Linked DNA regions of Homo sapiens: region 2 is linked to region 1. The links come from fine-mapping of genetic effects on gene expression. Tissue or cell type: whole blood. Region 1 holds a variant in brackets; the other region holds the start of a gene. All regions are shown on one strand. Distances are between the middles of the regions.

Region 1 (4,188 bases):
GCTGAAGAAACAGAACCTGCCAAGAATTTGGGTTCACCACGGGATCAGGCTGGATCCCTGGTGTCTGAGCTGGCCTCATTTGAGATGGAGTTGAGTGTTGACAGAACAATCAGTGGGAGCTGGGTGTTCCTAATGTTGCACTTTAAGCTTCTCTGTCAAAGTTAGCACAGACGATAGATCAAGATGACGTTTACTCATGAATTGTTGGGATATAAATTTATATTTTTCAAAGGAAATTTAAGATATCAACAACTTAAATATGTTCCTATTTTTGACCATGTAATTCTACCCATAAGAACCTGCCCAATCAGTTGGGTTATTGTAGATGAAAGTAAAATCATTCAAATTATCTCAAGAAACATTAAGAGGCTATACAGAGACAGAAACCCAGGAAAGTCTAAGCATCCCAGCCTTAAGTGCACAGACCTGGGGGCAGCTATGGGTTTGGGCACCCTTGGGATGACATGGGTTTCTCAGGGTGCTACCTCTATTCACAGGACTTGGTTCCCCTCCTTTCCGCTCTAGCTTTTCTTTACCATAGGACTGTCTTATTTCGTTTCTACAGCCCAGTCACCTTCTGGCAACACCACCTGTTGACTCTCAGCATTTCCTTGTTTGAACTCTTGATTGGTTAAATTACCTTTCCAAACGACGCAAGTAAGAGGTTTTTGGCCAGTCTATGGATTGGCTGCCCTGGGATCAGATGACCTCCCTGGTCCAATCAGCTGAGGCTAAGGCTAAAAAGGGACAGCTCACCCATAGCTGCTCCAATGGGGCGGTTTCCCTTGCAAAAGACTAGCGGCGTGAACGGGCAAACACTGTGATGGACATCTCTAGAAAAAGACTCGGAAAAGAGTCAGAGATAGGGACTAAGAAGTGCCTGAAAGTGCGCTTGCAGCGCGCGTGCACACACACGATATCCAACCACAAAGTACAATAATGACTTGCTGCTTAGGTGTGCGACAATGAGCAGCGAAGGCACTGACTTTGAAGGCTATTGGAAAACACGAGGAAATGCTCACAAAATAATATTCCATGAAAAAGAGCTATAAAACAGCATATACCGAATGATCAGAATTTCCAAAGAAAAAAATTGCATATTTTAAAATTTGGACGGGAAAGCCAACAGGCTAGTGGTGTGATAACTGGCGGTATAAAAGTGCTTCTTTATTTGGTCATACAGCTTTCAAATGTTGCTTAACGAACAGATAGCATTTTTATAATCAGAGGAAAGACTCAGTATTAAAGTGCGCGTCCCATCATTGCAACCGGGCCCTCGGGCAGCCAGCTCTCTCTTGCTTCGCGTCCGGCTCTCAGGCCCTGGAGCTCGGCCTCCCTACCTTCTCCAGGCGCGGGTCCTGCTCCTTTTCCGGCCGCCCTCGCTCCGCCCCTTCGCCTCTCCCCGTGATCCCTCTCTCGCTAACCGTAGGCGCTTTTCGTGAAGGCCCGGGTTTTTACAGCACTTCGCTTTTCTAACCACGAACAGTGCTCGTTCGTTCGCAGGGCCAGCAAGGAGAGCCCCGCCCCCGCCCGCCGCCCGCCGCCCGCCGCCCGCCGCCTTTGGATCCCGCGGACTCCGCCCGGCCCGGCCTCCCCAGGCATGGCGCCGCTGCGCTTCTCCGCCAATCTGTCCTGGCTATTCCCCGAGCTCTCCGGCCTCCCCGCGCGGGTGCGGGCCGCGGGCAGCTCGGGCTTCGAGGCCGTCGAGGTGGCCTGGCCGTACGCGGAGACGCCTGAGGCGCTGGCGCGCGCCGCGCGAGAAGCGGGGCTGCGGCTTGTACTGATCAACACGCCCCCGGGTGCGTCGCGGGCCGGGAGGGCTGGGAGGGCTGGGGGGTGCCGGGGCGCGGGCAGGGGAGTGTCCGAGCCGGGGGCTGAGGCCCGTTCTCTCTGCAGGAGACCAAGAGAAGGGGGAAATGGGGCTGGGGGCCGTCCCCGGGAGACAGGCGGCCTTCCGAGAGGGACTGGAGCAGGCCGTGCGGT[A/G]TGCCAAAGCCCTGGGCTGTCCCAGGTACCCCGCTCCACCCCACCCCCACCCCTGTGACCCATGACCCTGATGCAGGTTCAGGGAGTCGAGGACGCCAGATCTGAGACGCTCAGAAGTCTGAGCCCACTGGTTTATCTCTGCCTCTGCGGTCCTGGTCCTTTGTAAATTGCCTTTTGTATTTTATCTGTCTTATGCCACTCTGTTTGCCACTCTTTCATGCTCACCCCATGCTGGGATCCCATGCTGGGAGCTCAGTCTGCCTAGGCAGATAGGAGAGTAAATATATACAGTGATGCATTTGAGGACAGGCCTATTCCAGGAAGCTGTGGGAGCAGGGTAGGCACCTAACCCTGTCTGGATCAGAGAAAGCTGCTTACAGGTAGTGATGCTTGGACTGTCTTCAAGGAGTGGGCATTGCTTGATGGGCAGGAAGTTGAGTGTTCCTTGCAAGGGTGCTGTGGCAAGAGGAGGCCTGGTGTATTTGGCAGCGTTCCTGAGGCTGGACATGTATGTAGCCTGTTGGGATGGGGAGGCCTGGAATGTCTGCTTGGAGCTGGATGTGGCTAAGATCAGGGGATGATGGGAGGAGGTGGACGGCTCAAAGTGGGGCTGATTCAAATGTCAAATCCTGCAGAGGCCAAACAGGCTCAGAAGGAACTGGCAAGAGGGGATCACTACTGGTCAATGGTGGGGGCAGAAAACAGATGGGAAAAGGCTAAGTAGATGCGAGGAGAGGAAGTAGAGACAGCAGCATGGAATACCTGAGAAGGGCAAGCAAAGGTCAGGACAATTTTTAAAGGTGAGAATTTAGCAGGTTACAGGTTGCGGAGAAGGACCGAGGGAAGGAAAGGTTTTGGAAAGTACTGGAGGCAGGAGGCGGTGGGTGGACACTGAGATGTCTGGGAAAGGGCTTGCCCCTCAGCCATCACTGAAGTGTCTCTGAAAGTGCTGGGATACCTGGGCATCGTGACCCAGGTGCCATGGACTGGAGACCTGGGGAGACGGACGAGGGCTGGCACAGTCAGGGAATCCTGGAAGAGGTGCAGAGAGAGCCAAGGGAGGCAAGGCCTCCAGTCCATCTTCCCCACAGGATCCACCTGATGGCTGGCCGAGTACCCCAGGGAGCTGATCGAATAGCAGTCAAGGCTGAGATGGAGGCCGTTTTTCTGGAGAACCTGAGGCATGCAGCTGGGGTTTTGGCTCAGGTGAGAAAGGTGGAAACACACACGTACTTACATGTCTCTGTGGGTGTGCGGAGAAGGGGGTGCACAGTGGGGACAGCACGTGAGGCTGCCAGCCTAGGTCAGAGGAACAGGTGAGGGCCTTGACCAGTGACTGACTGATGGGGGACAAACTTGGGAAGGAGCTCTATTCACAGCACCCGACATGCTGCTAGGAGGACCTCGTGGGACTGCTGGAGCCCATCAACACCCGCATCACTGACCCCCAGTACTTCCTGGACACGCCCCAGCAGGGTACGACCCCAGCCCTGTCTCTCCTTCTGTCCCTTTTGATTCCTGTGCTCTTGAGGCTCACGGTCCCCTCCCTGGCTTCTCTTACAGCGGCAGCCATCTTACAGAAGGTAGGAAGACCCAACCTCCAATTACAAATGGTAAGTGGAAGGGGGTACTTCGCAGATCGGAAGGAGGGCGGGGCCTGCGGGGTCTCGGAATGTAGTATCCTCTTCCCTAGGACATATTCCACTGGCAGATCATGGATGGGAACCTGACAGGAAACATCCGGGAGTTCCTGCCCATTGTTGGTGAGAGGACCTTCCTTTGCCCTCCCACCCTTTCAATCCCCACATCTGTCCTTCAGGCCCTGGCAGGAGCCTGGACCCCACATTTGTCCACATCTGTCCCCAGGGCATGTGCAGGTGGCACAGGTCCCAGGCCGAGGGGAGCCCAGCAGCCCCGGAGAGCTGAATTTCCCCTATCTGTTTCAACTGCTGGAAGATGAAGGCTACAAAGGCTTCGTGGGCTGTGAGTATCAGCCTCGAGGTGAGGCGTGGCCCTGGGGAAGGGAGCTCTGGAGGGACCCGGACAGGGGCTGTTTTCTCCTTGTGGGCTGAGGTGCCGAGGCCTCCCTCTCCCTGCAGGAGACACAGTAGAGGGCTTGAGTTGGCTACGTTCATACTGGGATAGGCGGGGCCACCCAGAGGCTGGCCAGTGAGGGCCCGCACACCACCCACGTGCCTCCAGACA
Region 2 (6,399 bases), 84 kb after region 1:
GAATAAAATCCAGTCTTCTTGCTGTGGCATACAAGGCTCTTCATAAACTGACTCATGCCTACCTTTCTTGCCCTCCCATATGCCCTCTGAACTGGAGTCATACCAAACTACTTAGCGTTCCCAAACCCGCCACATCTCTTGCTTCTATGCCTTCACATACATGCTTCGCTCCACTTAGAATGCCTTTCCCTGCTTCCTAGAAAGTGTCCTTTTTTTTCTTTCTTTTTTTTTTTTTTGAGATGGAGTCTCGCTCTTGTCGCCCAGGCTGGAGTGCAGTGGTACAACCTCAGCTCACTGCAACCTCCGCCTCCTGCCTTCAAGTGGTTCTCCTGCCTCAGCCTCCTGAGTAGCTGGAATTTCAGGCGCCTGCCACCAGGCCTGGCTAATTTTTGTGTATTTTTTAGTAGAGACAGGGTTTCACCATGTTGGCCAGTCTGGTCTCGAACTCCTGACCTCAGGTGATCCACCGACCTCAGCCTCCTAAAGTGCTGGGATTACAGGCATGAGCCACCTTACGCGGCCTAGAAAGTGACCTTTAATGCTCAATTAAGTGTCATTTTTGCATCACCTTTAAGAATTAGCCTCCATACTGAGTTAAGGTGCCCCCGCACCCCAGTGCTTTCATAACCCTCTGGGTTTATCTCTATGGGAACACTCACCACATATATAATTGCTCATCTATATGTCTGTCTTTTCCATCAGACTGAGTGTTTTGCAGGAACCCCAGGGCCATGAAGATGCCATTTGGTAGGATTTGGGGCTAAGTGGTCTATATCAGATATTTGAGCATCCTCAAATATTTGGCAAACATCCATTCACTGTTTGCCAAACTGAACAAAAGAAACTCAGGAAGGGGGAGAGGGGTATGATAGAACCTGGGACAAGAGCTGAACAACTGTCTTTGAGCATGTTCATTCATGTAGTCAGTCAGCATTTATTGAGGGCCTGCCATGGTCATTTACAAATGTGGTCCAGGTAAATAAAAACACAGTTGAAGTTTCCTATCACTGCTGTGTTTGGCCTCTGGGACAGTTTCATCATCTATAATAGTCTGCTTTGTCTCTAGTGCACTCTTATGATGGACATTTAATCCAAAATCTCTCAATAGTGCTCTCACAACAGTGGTTTGCACACAGTAACTGTTTAGGAAAGATTATTAAAAGAATGCTCATGAATCTACATATAAGTATGTACCTTCCTGATACTTTGGGCACTTTCCCACCTTGTCCATTAAATGTTGAGACAGAAACAGTGCTGAACACCTTACATGTGTTATCTCTTTCAGTCTTTACAGCAATCCTATGAGATAGGAACTCTTATTGCTCCAATTTTATAGAGGTTCAGCAACTTACATAAGGTCACACAGGTACTAATTGGAACATTTAAACTCATGGCTTTGGAGTCAGGTGTGAACCTGAAGTCATTAGAGTATACCTGGAACACAGGCTTTCAATAAATATTTATGGACTCAGTGATACTGTTCCCAAGGGAAATGGAAAGGCTTTCTAATTCTTATTGTCCTCTCCACTTGACTCTGGTTCCCTTGGCCTCTCTTCCTTTCCCACGTCATCCCATTCACACTAACATTCATTCAACAAAGGTAGAGGGCCAACTGAGTACCAGATAACGGGCCAGATGCTGGAGATACAGAGATGACAAAACATGGCCCATGCTGAGAGGAGCTTATAGTTTTGCGATGCAGATAAGCATATAATTACAATTGTGGGAGCAAGAGGAGGGAGTGATTTACTGCCTAGGAGACCTGACTGTTCCTTGTGCTGAGCCAGGGGGCAAGGTTTGAGGGTTGAGGGGGGTATGAAAGATGCTGACATCCTCGGGGAATGGTTAAAGCACTGGGTGGGGCCCAGGAGAGTGTCACAGGTAGAATGAGAGGACAAGGCAGGGACCAGATCAGTTAGGACCTTAGTGTTGGAGCCTTTTAAACAGTGAATTCTGCCATTTCCTTTCAAGGATGGGTACTAATAGGCTGGGTCATATCTGTACTTTGGCTCAGACCTCTTACCTAAACTCTAGGACTAAACTTTCACATAGCTATATCCCACCATTTGTGGAGTTATTTATTTATTTATTTATTTATTTAGAGACAAGGTTTCTATCACTCAGACTGGAGTGCAGTGGCGCAGTCTTGGCTTACTGCAACCTCCACTTCCTGGGCTCAAGTCATCCTCCCACCTCAGCCTCCAGAGTAGCTGGGACTATAGGCATGCATCACCATGCCCAGCTGATTTTTTGTATTTTTTGTAGAGCCGGGGTCTCACGATGTTGCCCAGGCTCGAACTTGTGAGCTCAAGTGATCTGCCTGCCTCAGCCTTACAAAGTGCTAGGATTACAGGTGTGAGCCTCCATCCCCAGCCTATCCTACCATTTATGAACATCTTTTTTTTTTTTTTTTTTTTTTCTGGAGACGAGTCTTGCTCTGTTGCCCAGGCTGTAGTGCAGTGGCATGATCTCGGCTTACTGCACCCTCTGCCTCCCAGGTTCAAGCAATTCTCCTGCCTCAGCCTCCCAAGTAGCTGGGACAACAGGCGCACACCACCATGCCCAGCTAATTTTTTTTTAAATGTATTTTAGTAGAGATGGGGTTTCACTGTGTTGCCCAGGCTGGTCTCCGAATTCCCTTTTTTTTTTTTTTTTGAGACGGAGTCTTGCCCTGCACTCCAGGCTGGAGTGCAGTGGCTTGATCTCGGCTCACTGCAACCTCCGCCTCCCAGGTTCAAGCAATTCTTCTGCCTCAGCCTCCCGAGTAGCTGGGATTACAGGCTTGCGCCACCATGCCTGGCTAATTTTTGTATTTTCAGTAGAGACGGGGTTTCACCATGTTGGCCAGGCTGTTCTCAAACTCCTGACCTCAGGTGATCTGCCCGCCTCAGCCTCCCAAAGTGCTGGGATTACAGGCGTGAGCCAACGCACCCGGCCTTTTTTTTTTTTTTTTTTTTTTTTTTGAGACAGAGTCTTGCTCTATTGCTCAGGCTGGAGTGCAGTGGTGCGATCTCGGCTCACTGCAAGCTCTGCCTCCCGGGTTCACACCATTCTGTCTCAGTCTCCCGAGTAGCTGGGACTACAGACGCCCGCCACCACGCCCGGCTAATTTTTTGTATTTTTAGTAGAGATGGGGTTTCACCGTGTTAGCCAGGATGGTCTCGATCTCCTGACCTCGTGATCCGCCTGCCTTGGCCTCCCAAAGTGCTGGGATTACAGGCGTGAGCCACCGCGCCCGGCCTTTTTTTAAAAAAATGTGTTTATTTTCCTTGCGGAGCAGGGCTGCCCCATAAGCAGTGTGCCCAGAGTAGCCCAAATTCCCTAATTCTGTCCGCACTTACACCATCCAATCATACAAGCAGTTGTTAGATCGTTGTGTGCTACTGTTCCAGGGGCCGCTGGAGGTAGAAATTCCATTTCACTAAAATCTAGTCTGTCCTTTGCCCCCACTAGTTGAGTCCAGTTAGTGAGTGTGGAGGTGGGGGCTGGAGGTGTAGAAGAGATAAATAAATATATAGAGAGCCAGTCCAGCTGTCTGGAGGACATTGTCCGCCTCCTCCAATCCCATCAGTTGCCACATCTTCTTTGGTCAGGCTGGCTTTCTCACCTGGTCTCCTTTCTGTGCCCTCCTCACACTGGCTGCCAAAGTGATTCAGCCAGATAGACTGCAAGCCCCGTGAGTGCACGGACGGTGGGTGGTCCATAAACGTCTGATGAACTAATGATACAAGCTTGAATATAGTCTCCTAAAAAAATCTTTAGTTTCTCCTCTGCTTCTAGAATAAAAATCAGATCGCCCCATTTGGCCTTCAAGACCTACTACATTCAGCCACAGTCAGCTTCATTTCCCTTTTTTCCTTTCACTACCTCGAAGGCCAGATTAGCCAGTGATTCACTATGCTTGCCCCGGGCCACTTGTATCCTCTCACCTCCGTTCCAGGCAGCCCTCGCAGCAGATCCTAACGCTTAGGGCTCCTCCAAGTGTACAGGCTCGTGAGGCTTCCCTCCCGCTAAGACCAGTGCGCCCTCAGCACACGCAGTGTGGTCTCGCCCGCCGCTCTGCGCTCGCCCTGCAGGAGAGGGAGCTCTTTGAAGGCAAGGCCGAACCTCCCCCGAGCCCTGAGCTGGGCCTGCCGCCACAGATGTGCAGTCCTGCCGGGGAGCAGTCACCCGGGGACAGGGCCGGGCCCCGGGCTGCACGTCGGGAAGAGACAGCGTGCTCCTGAGGTGGCCAGGCCGCTGCAACTGGCCAGGGCGGGCCCGGGCGGCGAGGGAAGGGGTGGGAAGCCCGGGCCGCGGCGCTTCCTGCTGGGACCCGGCGGCACGCCCCTGCCCCCGCCCCGGCCGAGCCTGCGCTGCCGGCCTCCGGCCCTGCCGGCCGCCCAATCAGCGGGCGCCCCCCGCGCGGCCCGCCCCTCCCCCTCTGGTGACAGAAAGTCGGCCCAGCAGATGAGGAAGTGGCAGGCAGGCAGGCTGGCCCCGGGGACTTCTCTCTGGCCCTGCTCCCTCCGAGCGCTCCGCCGTTGCCCGCCTGGCCCCTACGGGTGAGTCTGGACCTTCCACGGACTCTCCACGTGCCGGCGCCCCCTGCCTGGCCAGCCCGGCCCAGCCCGGCCCAGCCCTGCCCTGCCCTGCCCAGGCTGTGGGCGAGGGTGTTCCCGGGGCCAGTGGGTGGGAGGTCCCAGCTCCCTGGGGCCGGGCCTCGCCAGCACCCTCCCTCCCCCACACCCCCGTCTCTGGCCCCCATTTGCCTACACCCGGGCCTTCCTCCACCACCCCTGCATTTACCTCTCTCCCTCCTCCTCTCCCCTCCCTCCCCCCGCTACCCTAACTTTGCCAGGCACCTTTTCCCTTCCATCCATCTTAAAGGAAGGAAGGGACGGGCTGAGTTCCCCGACGAGAGACACACCCAGATTTTCCTGCAGCTTGGGGAGAGGTCCTCCCAGGAGCCTTGGTCCCTCCTGGCCTGCCGGGTGTGTGGGTTGATATTGGGGGCTGGTGGTTGAGAGATAACAGGCTGGCTGGCTCCCATGTGTCAGGGAGGAACCTGTGTTGGCGCCCTCGCCCCGGCCTGGGCCCTGCCGGCGATGGGCGGCCAGCAAGCCCGATGGTGGGGGAGCAAGTAAGGAGGGGATCCGAGCGTGGCCAGGCAGCGCGCACACGTGTGTGAGTGGCCCCGCGGGTGAGCCCGTGCGTGTGCCTGGGCGGTGGCCGAGCTGCGTGAGGGCCGGGAGCCATGCGTGTCAGCCCACGGAGGTGTTGCGTGGTGTGTCAGGCAGGAGACGTGTGTGCCAGCCCTCGGCGTGGCACCTTCGCTGTTGGGGGTGGAGAGCTAGGTGAGAGGTGGGTGTGGACCGCAGGCTTGGGGCCTGACCACGGTGGGCCTAAAGAAGCCGGGCCTCCTGGAGGTGAGGGGTGTGCGGGGCAGGGAGGTGTCAGAGGTGCGCCTCTTCACTTGGCATCTGCAGAGGTGCTTCTCTGGAAGCAGGGAGTCTGGGGCACCTGCTGCCCTGGGCCCTGCTCTGTTCCAAGAATGCCTTGTCCCTCAGGGACTGTCAGTACCATGCTCTCCTGGGTCTGGCCAGAGGCTTTTGTGTCCCTGGGAGCCTTCCCCCGACATTCCTTCAGGCCCTGAGGGGGAGGGGGCCTAGCCCAACGGGGCCCCTCCCTGAGGGAGGGGAAGATTCCTGCGACCTCCCCCACTCCCCAACCCCTTCACATGCCACTGGCTTCCCTGCCCTTCCCAGGAAGGGAAGAGTGATTGTACCCATTCTGAAGTAGGACAAACTGAGCAGTTATGGCCGGCTTAGGAGAGGATGCTGGGTGTGGATTTTCAGCAGTGCTTTGGGCCAGGGCTGGGGCTGGGGCTGGGGTCAGAGGAGGTTTCTGGCTCAGAATCTAGGACCTTAGCTCATCAGGCTGGTCCCACGTGGGTGGGTGGGTGGCGAGTCTGGGGCTTTACTTGGCTTTCCCAATCCTGGTGGGTCCTGCTCCCCCAGGCACTGACCTGTGGCCCGGACCCACCCTCCACCCCCTGCACAGTACAGCAGGGGCGGGCAGAGGGCGGGGCTGCTGCCAGATCTAGTCAGACAGGTGGAGCCGCCGGGGCAGGAGTCTCAAAGAGCCAGGCTCCAGGAGAGGAAGGGCTCTGCGAGAGGAGAGAGGAGAGCGCTGGAGAGGAGAGGCTGGAGGTGAGAGTCCCAGGAAAGGCAGAGGAGAATCGTAGGGACATAAGTGTCCCAGCACAGGCAAGGAGGAATCCGAGGATAAGGTTCTGGAGGGACAGAAGGGCCCAGAGAGGTGAGAGTCCTGGCAGGGACAGGAGGGACCCTGGGGAGAAGAGAGTTCAGGAAGGGTCCAGAGGGATGGGAAGAGGAGAGGGCAGGAGAGGAGAGATTG

The links. PIP is the estimated chance that this variant, and not a neighbour inherited with it, causes the effect.
Region 2: ELOVL1 starts here. The variant in region 1 is fine-mapped to the expression of ELOVL1 in whole blood (TOPMed, PIP above 0.99).

The regions. Positions count from the first base shown.
Region 1 is chr1:43,451,206-43,455,393 of GRCh38, reverse strand. SZT2 (SZT2 subunit of KICSTOR complex) reads right to left here. Exons shown (of 72, transcript NM_001365999.1): 72 at 1,147-4,188. HYI (hydroxypyruvate isomerase (putative)) reads left to right here and starts at 1,463. Exons shown (of 8, transcript NM_001190880.3): 1 at 1,463-1,799; 2 at 1,897-2,008; 3 at 3,075-3,189; 4 at 3,381-3,459; 5 at 3,547-3,596; 6 at 3,677-3,746; 7 at 3,850-3,984; 8 at 4,083-4,188. The coding sequence starts at 1,601. The coding sequence ends at 4,156. HYI-AS1 (HYI antisense RNA 1) reads right to left here and starts at 1,467. Exons shown (of 2, transcript NR_174945.1): 1 at 1,341-1,467. RefSeq lists silencers at 1,427-1,726, 1,837-1,896 and enhancers at 2,687-3,573, 3,574-4,188. The variant A/G (reference allele first, on the strand shown) is at 1,984.
Region 2 is chr1:43,366,060-43,372,458 of GRCh38, reverse strand. It overlaps ELOVL1 (ELOVL fatty acid elongase 1), which reads left to right and starts at 4,448. Exons shown (of 8, transcript NM_022821.4): 1 at 4,448-4,544. It overlaps LOC112268225 (a long non-coding RNA gene), which reads right to left and starts at 4,247. Exons shown (of 2, transcript XR_007066049.1): 1 at 1-4,247. RefSeq lists silencers at 2,994-3,179, 4,119-4,798, 6,059-6,148 and enhancers at 3,599-3,678, 4,272-5,006, 5,007-5,741.